Homo sapiens: one gene and its partner. The gene in region 1 interacts genetically with each later gene. Each region holds a gene or a part of one and is shown in the gene's direction. Other genes may lie near its edges.

What was found. Genes that interact genetically often act in the same process or in processes that back each other up.
Region 2: changes in CPSF1 (region 1) and FBXW7 are lethal when combined (synthetic lethality), as found in Homo sapiens cells (one study listed by BioGRID).

Annotation. Positions count from the first base shown.
Region 1 is NC_000008.11:144,395,130-144,400,136, reverse strand, and holds part of CPSF1 (cleavage and polyadenylation specificity factor subunit 1), read left to right. Parts: exon of another isoform or gene 1-51; coding exon 52-145; intron 146-268; coding exon 269-356; intron 357-426; coding exon 427-549; intron 550-633; coding exon 634-685; intron 686-763; coding exon 764-861; intron 862-934; coding exon 935-1,009; intron 1,010-1,098; coding exon 1,099-1,179; intron 1,180-1,268; coding exon 1,269-1,358; intron 1,359-1,498; coding exon 1,499-1,612; intron 1,613-1,693; coding exon 1,694-1,835; intron 1,836-1,906; exon of another isoform or gene 1,907-1,948; intron 1,949-2,004; coding exon 2,005-2,183; intron 2,184-2,257; coding exon 2,258-2,394; intron 2,395-2,475; coding exon 2,476-2,650; intron 2,651-2,723; coding exon 2,724-2,930; intron 2,931-3,207; coding exon 3,208-3,297; intron 3,298-3,395; coding exon 3,396-3,539; intron 3,540-3,636; coding exon 3,637-3,789; intron 3,790-4,585; coding exon 4,586-4,702; intron 4,703-4,781; coding exon 4,782-4,872; and 2 more. UniProt on the Homo sapiens protein: Component of the cleavage and polyadenylation specificity factor (CPSF) complex that plays a key role in pre-mRNA 3'-end formation, recognizing the AAUAAA signal sequence and interacting with poly(A) polymerase and other factors to bring about cleavage and poly(A) addition.
Region 2 is NC_000004.12:152,528,741-152,533,092, reverse strand, and holds part of FBXW7 (F-box/WD repeat-containing protein 7), read left to right. Parts: intron 1-2,242; exon of another isoform or gene 2,243-4,352. UniProt on the Homo sapiens protein: Substrate recognition component of a SCF (SKP1-CUL1-F-box protein) E3 ubiquitin-protein ligase complex which mediates the ubiquitination and subsequent proteasomal degradation of target proteins.

The DNA of each region.
Region 1 (5,007 bases):
GCCCGGGGACGGCTTGGGCCTGCCTAGTCGGCCTGACCACCCACCCCACAGGCACCCAGGAGGGTGTGCGGATCACCCTGGACTGCGCCCAGGCCACCTTCATCTCCTACGACAAGATGGTCATCTCCCTCAAGGGCGGCGAGATGTGAGCCCCTCCCCCGCCCATGAACTCTGCCCACACCGCCCCCCACAAGTCCTGTAGGGTCCCCTGGCCCCCTTCACTCCCCCAGGGTCCCCATCCCCGACTCAGAATTCTCCCTGCCCCCAGCTACGTGCTGACCCTCATCACCGACGGCATGCGCAGTGTCCGAGCGTTCCACTTTGACAAGGCGGCCGCCAGCGTCCTCACCACCAGCGTGAGTTGGGACTAGGGGTTGGGTCTGGGTCCAGACCCGGCCCAGCCATCACACACCTGCCCTCCCTCAGATGGTCACCATGGAGCCCGGGTACCTGTTCCTGGGTTCTCGCCTGGGCAATTCCCTCCTCCTCAAGTACACGGAGAAGCTGCAGGAGCCCCCGGCCAGTGCTGTCCGTGAGGCTGCCGACAAGGTGGGTTTCCTGGGCCCATTGGGCCACCACCCTTCATGTGGGCACTGCTGTGGCATGCCACTCAGTGCCCCTCCTGCCTCACAGGAAGAGCCTCCCTCAAAGAAGAAGCGAGTGGATGCGACGGCCGGCTGGTCAGGTGAGGGCCGGTCCAGGGCTGGTCAGGAGCGGGGCCAGGTGACCCAGGGCTGCGCTCAAGTGGGCTCTCTGTGTGCAGCTGCGGGTAAGTCGGTGCCGCAGGATGAGGTGGACGAGATTGAAGTGTACGGCAGCGAGGCCCAGTCGGGAACACAGCTGGCCACCTACTCCTTTGAGGTGAGATTGAGGCAGCAGGGCCCCCGTCCCAGCCAGCGCCCCCAGCGGGCCCCTGACTCTTGCTGTGCCGCAGGTGTGTGACAGCATCCTGAACATTGGACCCTGTGCCAATGCCGCCGTGGGCGAGCCTGCCTTCCTCTCTGAAGAGGTGCCCAGGGTTGGGGTCGGGGCTGGGGGCAGGGGCTGGAGTGTGAGGGGGGGTGGGGGGCATAGTCCTCACCCCCGAGTCCTGTGCAGTTTCAGAACAGCCCCGAGCCGGACCTGGAGATTGTGGTTTGCTCCGGCCACGGGAAGAACGGGGCTTTGTCGGTGCTGCAGGTGTGTGGGCAGGTAGGGGGCGGGCGCCTCCTGGTGGGACCTGGGTGGGCTCACACCCCCATCACACCCCCACCCCATCATCATTCTAGAAGAGCATCCGGCCCCAGGTGGTGACAACCTTTGAGCTTCCCGGCTGCTATGACATGTGGACAGTCATCGCCCCGGTGCGTAAGGAGGAGGTAGGTGCGAGCCTGCTGCAGGGAGGCCCTGGGATGGGACCGGCGCTGCCTTCTCATAGGCCGGGGGTGCCCAGGTCGCACCTGCGTGCCTGCCTTCACTGGACTGTGGCTTCCAGCCTGCCCCCCTTTGGCCCTGACAGGAGGACAATCCCAAGGGGGAGGGCACAGAGCAGGAACCCAGCACCACCCCTGAAGCAGACGACGACGGCCGCAGACACGGATTCCTGATTCTGAGCCGGGAAGACTCCACCATGGTGAGGGGCAGGGCCTGGGACCTGGGACCTGGGGCTGGGGTCCCCTGCGGGGGGCGCCTCCCTCACAGCTGTCGCCCGCAGATCCTGCAGACGGGGCAGGAGATCATGGAGCTGGACACCAGTGGCTTCGCCACTCAGGGCCCCACGGTCTTTGCTGGGAACATCGGGGACAACCGCTACATTGTCCAAGTGTCACCACTGGGCATCCGCCTGCTGGAAGGAGGTAGGTGGGGGGGGTGGTTGGGCCCTGGGCATCTGCCTGCTGGAAGGAGGTAGGTGGGTGGGGACGGTGGGGGGGAGGTGGTTGGGCCCTGGGCATCCGCCTGCTGGAAGGAGGTAGGTGGGTGGGGACGGTGGTGGGGAGGCGCATGCTGACTGCCCCATGCCTACAGTGAATCAGCTGCACTTCATCCCCGTGGACCTGGGCGCCCCCATCGTGCAGTGCGCCGTGGCCGACCCCTATGTGGTCATCATGAGTGCCGAGGGCCACGTCACCATGTTCCTGCTGAAGAGTGACTCCTACGGTGGCCGCCACCACCGCCTGGCGCTGCACAAGCCCCCGCTGCACCATGTAGGCCCCCTCATTCCCGGCGCCCTCCTGTCCCTGCCCCTTGCCCGCCGCTGAGCCCACCCCTCTCCCCGCAGCAGTCCAAGGTGATTACGCTGTGCCTGTACCGAGACCTCAGCGGCATGTTCACCACTGAGAGCCGCCTGGGTGGGGCCCGTGACGAGCTCGGGGGCCGCAGTGGCCCGGAGGCCGAGGGCCTGGGCTCAGAGACTAGGTGCGTGGGGGCTGGGGGCGCAGGTAGGGGCTTGGGTCCCTGGGGCTGGCAGGCCGCCCATGACCTTCTGCTGGCCCCCAGCCCCACAGTGGATGACGAGGAGGAGATGCTGTATGGGGATTCGGGCTCCCTCTTCAGCCCCAGCAAGGAGGAGGCCCGAAGAAGCAGCCAGCCCCCTGCTGACCGGGACCCTGCACCCTTCCGGGCAGAGCCTACCCACTGGTGCCTGCTGGTGCGGGAGAATGGCACCATGGAGGTAGGTGGTGCCCTGCACTGTGGCCCAGCGGGTTCCACCCACCTGCCTCCACTGACTGCTGCCCACCCTGCAGATCTACCAGCTTCCCGACTGGCGGCTGGTGTTCCTGGTGAAGAACTTCCCTGTGGGGCAGCGGGTCCTTGTGGACAGCTCCTTTGGACAGCCCACTACACAGGGCGAGGCCCGCAGGGAGGAGGCCACGCGCCAGGGGGAGCTGCCCCTCGTCAAGGAGGTGCTGCTGGTGGCGCTGGGCAGCCGCCAGAGCAGGCCCTACCTGCTGGTGAGTGCGCCTGGCCTGGCCTCCCCTTCCCATCTTCCCCCTGGCCCTGCCCGTTCCCCCACAGCCCCGCCCCTTCCCGTGGCTCCACCCCATCTCCCCCACGGCCCCGCCCCTTCCCGTGGCTCCACCCCATCTCCCTCACAGCCCCGCCCCTTCCCATACATGGCTCCACCCCATCTCAGCCCCGCCCCTTACCCACAGCCCACCTCTTCCCATGGCCCATCCCATGTTCTCCATGGCCCTGCCCGTTCCCCCATGGCTCCCCTCATCCTGCCAGGTGCATGTGGACCAAGAGCTGCTTATCTACGAGGCCTTCCCCCACGACTCTCAGCTCGGCCAGGGCAATCTCAAAGTCCGCTTTAAGAAGGTGCCAGTGGCTGGACTGCTGGGGCGTGGGGTGGGTGTGGTACAAGGTGTGGGTTTCAGACCGGCAGCCCCTGGAGGACCTGCATGGTTCCCCCCCAGGTCCCTCACAACATCAACTTCCGTGAGAAGAAGCCAAAGCCATCCAAGAAGAAAGCAGAAGGTGGCGGCGCAGAGGAGGGGGCTGGGGCCCGGGGCCGCGTGGCGCGTTTCCGCTACTTCGAGGATATTTATGGCTACTCAGGGGTAGGCCAGCGCCTTTGCAGGGGTCTGTGGTAGAAGGGAGACGCGGCCTCATCCGCAGCATCCTCATCCACAGCATCCTCACGGTGCCTGCCCCCAGGTCTTCATCTGCGGCCCCTCCCCTCACTGGCTCTTGGTGACCGGCCGAGGGGCTCTGCGGCTACACCCCATGGCCATCGACGGCCCGGTCGACTCTTTCGCTCCATTCCACAATGTCAACTGTCCCCGCGGCTTCCTGTACTTCAACAGACAGGTGGGGCCCGGCCGGTTCCCAGCAGCACTGGCTGATGCTGCCCCAGCTGGGGGCTGAGGGGGAGGGGACAGGAGAAGGGACCATTGGCTCCACCCTGAGGACCAGGAAGGAGTGTCCAGAGGGCGATGGGGTTGAGGTCGAGGAGGTGGAACCTGTGACTTGGTTGCTCCAAAGGTCTGGAAAGGGGTGGTTGGGAGCTGGGGCTGCAGCCCCTGGGGTCCCCACCACTGCTCTGCCGGCTCGCCGGGCAAGCCCTCGCAGGGCCTGGCCTCCACACTTCTCAGGAGAGCTGACGTGAGTGCTAGCTCTGCCCCTTGGCTGCTCTGTGACTTTGGGAGGGCACACAGGCTTTCTCATCCTGGTTCCCTATTTAAGCCACCACACCACCAGGTCACTTGAGACCCTGCCTGGGATGCGGTGAGTGCTTCCTGGGTGCCTGAGGACTCAGGACTGTCCATGAAAGAGGGCAGCCCTGGCTCCCTCTGCCTGGTTTTCAGTCCCCAGCATGGCAGTCTGTGGGCTGCCCTTTGCAGCCTCCAGTGCCCTCCTGGCCTAGCTTTCCCATCCCCTGTGGCCAGCACCCCTAGCCCCAGCTGAGCGTGGGAAAATGGACAGGAGGAGCCCCAGAGGCTGAGTGGCAGCCCCTTCCAGGACCTCGCCAGGACACAGCTGCCCCTCACCCACCCCTGCTCCCACAGAGCTGAGGGCAACATCCCAGGGCTCTTGGCGGCCTGGGCCTGCCTGCCCCTGCCCTTGGCTAGCCCTGGATCCCCTGACCCCTGTGCCCCCACCCCAGGGCGAGCTGAGGATCAGTGTCCTGCCTGCCTACCTGTCCTATGATGCCCCATGGCCTGTCAGGAAGATCCCGCTGCGCTGCACGGCCCACTATGTGGCTTACCACGTGGAGTCTAAGGTCTGCCCCCACCCCCACCCCACCAGGGACCTTCTGGGCCTGGCCGGGCCACTGGTGTGTGACCCTCACTAACCCACAGGTGTATGCTGTGGCCACCAGCACCAACACGCCGTGTGCCCGCATCCCACGCATGACTGGCGAGGAGAAGGAGTTTGAGACCATCGAGAGAGGTGGTGACGCCCACACCATACTCCCATCCTCAGCCGCATCTTGGGGAAGCCCTACTCTGACTGTCACCCTTGGTCCCCACAGATGAGCGGTACATCCACCCCCAGCAGGAGGCCTTCTCCATCCAGCTCATCTCC
Region 2 (4,352 bases), on another chromosome or scaffold:
TCAGCCTCCCAAATAGCTGGGACTACAGGCATGTGCTACCACGCCTGGCTAATTTTTTTTGTATTTTTAGTAGAGATGGGGTTTCACCATGTGGGTCAGGCTGGTCTAGAACTCCTGACCTCAAATGATCTGCCCACCTCGGCCTCCCAAAGTGCTGGGATTACAGGCGTTGAGACACCGCGTCCTGCCAAAAAATTATGGTAATGTTTTATTGCACGTTTGGGTAGAAATGACAAAGTTTTTGGGGTCCCTGCCTTTGAGATGCTTTTACTTGTAGGTGGTGGAGACAATCAAACACAAATTGCACAAAGCTATAGGAGAGGGGGGATAGACCAATATTTATCTAAGACCGCACTGGATGTTAGATATTGTCAACTTATAGATGTGAATATATTTTTACATTTTTCACTAGGGAAATGTTGCTTTTGGACGTGTACATATAGAACTAATTGAAGTATTGAAGCCAAATCTGGGAAGGTTTCTTTTAGGAAGAAAAGAGCAAGTGGAGACACAATATTTAAGACTTTTGGAATTGAAAGGCATAAGGGACAGATAAAATTACGAAGCTGGTTTGAAGGGAATACAGATAGAGGTTGTTGAGTAGTGTTAGGGTCAGTTGTGTTTGTGTAGACACATGATTACAGTTCAAAGAAGCAACTGAGAAGAGTGTTCCTGAGAGTAATTTCAGATGACTGGGGAGAAATTACATTTTAGGTAAAAGCTGTATGCCTGGATTAGGATTTTGTTTTTCTAGGGAACCAACATTTTTATTATATCGTGGCTATCCAGGGCTATACAGAAGGAGGAGTGAAAAAGAAGATGCTTAGTGTGTTGAAAGTGGCTTCTTACAAAAAAGAGTTTAGAAATGGGACAGTAGACTTTGCTTTGGATGTGAAATTTTAGGGCAACAATTGGATACTGGTGCAGTTTCAAAACAGCAAAATAGTTTAGCAGGTAATATACTGAAAATGTAAAGTTGGAATTATTTTCAAAGTATTTAGGTTTCCCAGAGTACTGATGGAAAGTGAAGAGCTGAAAAGTGGGTATTTTTAGTTAGGGGGAAAATCTGAATGAATGAGACACTACCTAAAATAGATGTTTTAGAAGTGGATAAGAGTTGAAGTTAAAAAGGAATGAGCAGGCTTTAAACATGGCCACCAGTTTAGTCCCAGGGTATATTATTCTGTATTTTTGAAACAAGCTAAAATTTTTTTTTTTTTTTAAATAGGGTATATAGGTCCCTTGAGATTAAGTTCAGAAGAGTATACTTAATAATAATTTCATTGTTAAGGAATTTATAAATAGAAGGACAGATTTGTTTCCTCAAATTCATGTTTTAAAGTTCACTGTGCATTATTATCCTACGTTTGGTCTTGATATGACGAAGTGAGGCCAAAAATAGCTGACAGAGAAGGCTGCTTCCCTTGTTCACAGTTGGTGTGTGTCTTTGTGTCCCATACAATGGAGGGGATATCCCTGTGTAGGCACAGTAGTGCTGAACATGCTTTTTTTTTTTTTTTCCTTTTAAACTTTTTATTAAAAAAAAGCAACTTGGCATTTAAAAAAATGTAGACATTTTTGCGGCTTGCATTTAGTATTGACTTTAACAGGATTAAGGATTGTGAGGAAGGAAATATATATTCACACTTTTTTGTGTTCCTTAGTTGGAATTCTGCACCTTCCTAGTAGCTTCTCTGACTTCTTAACAGTGATTATTCAAATGGCAGAAACTCTGGGGAAGAGATGTTTCAACAAGGAGATAGGTCTAAGGTGATTCTAGGGTGAAAATATAGGGATTGGATTATATGCCATATGGAGGCCTTCTCTTGTCATCCTCCACTTTCCACAACATTTTTTGTGCAGTCGAAGCCATGTTCAGATGAATTTTAGAAGGCAGCCACTTATAGTTAATGTTATTTACTAGTGAGGACAGTGGGAAGAGTGGTAACTTCATGTACTTTGCCTTGGCAACTTTTGGATTGATAGGGAATTAGAGAGCCTTGAGGGTATATGTTTGTGTGTGTGTGTGTGTTTTAGCACCCACCAGATGACCCCAAAGGCCATGCATAGGCTCATTTCATTGTACTTTGGAGATGGTTCTTGGAGAAGTCTTCTGGTGCTTCTGACATCTCATTGTGTAGAGAAAGAGTTGGCAAACTATTTTTGTAAAGGGCCAGTTAGTAAATATTTTAGGTTTTACAGGCCACATGATCTGTCACAACTTTCAATTCTGTTCTTATAGTGTGAAAGCAGCTGTAGACAACAAGGAAGTGAATGAATGTTGCCGTGCTCCAATTGGCCCATAGGCCGAAGTTTTTGGACTCCTGGTATAGACAACTGCCAAATCCACCAACAAACAGTATGAGCTTTATTACACTACAAAGCCAGGACTGGCTATTTTTGGTGGTCTTTGTTTTCTAGATGAGATGTTTTTCTCTGAGTTCATTTAAAATGATTCTGCATAAAGCACATACTCTACTGTACAAAATACTTTTGCCTTCATGGTGATGAAAACTATGGATTGAGGGTCGGGGTGATACCATCTTTAAAGGGATGCAGCTAAAAAGTAGGGACTACCTGCATTTCTTATCTAAAGATAACCACAGTTGGCATTTAGTGATATACTGGCTTTGTATCATGGCCAAAAGTATCTGTAAAGAAGCTTGTGGGCATACTTTTGAAACCTTCTGAAAATAAATGTAAAGCATTTACTTCGTGTGTAAAATTAGAAGTGTCTATGGTTGGTTTGAATAATATGAGTCAAATTATAAGAGCATTAAAGTTTGATACTGCTATCTATTAAAGTCTTAATCTCTTGCAGTGGCTAATTCAGTGTGTAGAATTACACATCGCAATTTTTGTTTTGTTAATTTCAAGTACTAGTGTATATTAACAAATCACTTAAATCATTTAAATGTGTACTTTAAAAAGCTTTGATGTATATACATATATATACGTATATATATATATGTACACGTATATATATACACGTGTGTGTGTGTGTGTGTGTGTGTGTGTGTGTATTTTTTTTTTTTTTGTGACGGGGTCTCATTCTGTCACCCAGGCTGGAGTGCTGTGGTGTGATCTCAGCTCACTGCAACCTCCACCTCCTGGGCTCAAGTCATCCTCCTACCTCAGCCTCTCGAGTGGCTGGGATCACAGGCATGCGCCACCATGCCCGACTAATTTTTTTGTATTTTTGATAGAGATGGGTAACAACTTTTGGATTGATAGGGAATTAGAGAGCCTCGAGGGTATATGTGTGTGTGTTTTAGCACCCACCAGGTAACCCCAAAGGCCATGCATCATGTTGCCCAGGCTGGTCTCTTAACTCCTGAGCTCAGGTAATCCATCTACCTCGACCTCCCTCAGTGCTGGGATTGCAGGCGTGAGCCACCACACCTGGCCAGCATTGCTATATTTTTAAGAGTGAATCTTTCTCACATGTGTTGTTCAGAAAGTGTAATTCACTTTGTGCAATTTTACATTACAGTTAATATTAAAATATTTGTTTCATATGTCAGCAGATACCAACATTGGATGATGGTATATTTAGTTTCATAAATCCTATTTATTTTAGGATTCCCTTGTTTATGGCAGGGGTGGAGATTACTCTTGCAATAATGATCACTTTTTAGTTAGTTTGAAACCTGCTTTTAGTTTATATGTAGTATTTCTACATATTGTTACTTAAATTGAACTAACAATTTACTTTTTAATTTTTCTTCTTCCTTTTAAAAAAAGAGTATATAATCTGACAATGTTAGTACATCTTTTAGAAGGTCACTATAAAGTTGCTTTCCCTATTTATTTGGAAAGGATTATTTCCTTATTATTTTAAAAAATCTTTTAATTTTTGTCTTTTCAAGTAATTTTATCATTGTCCCAAGCCTAAGGATGAGTGGCAATTTAAAAGACACAAGGTGTGCATCTTCTATCTGCAAATACTCCAAACAGAAATTATTCCAGTTTGTTGATACTTTGAGTGGACCAGGGAAAAATGTGTATGTTTTTAGTGTAACTGAATTGTCATTACAAAAAGATGAGTAAAGTTGCTGTTAAATAATGAATTCTTGCTGTTAATTTGTCCTGTTCTTAGACTTTCCCCCATTAAGTATAATGGGGGAAAATGTACACACACACACACACACACAAAGTATGTATGTGTAGATATACCTAGCGTATTGTGCTAGATGTTCATTTCTGCATGACTGCTCTGGAATTTAGGCAATATTAAAAGACCTTACAAAATATTTTTAATATCACTTAATATCCTGTTTTATGTCTTAATGTACTTTTATGTTTTTGCTGCTTTCTGATGATACCTCCTTGGTACTTCCTCATGATACCTT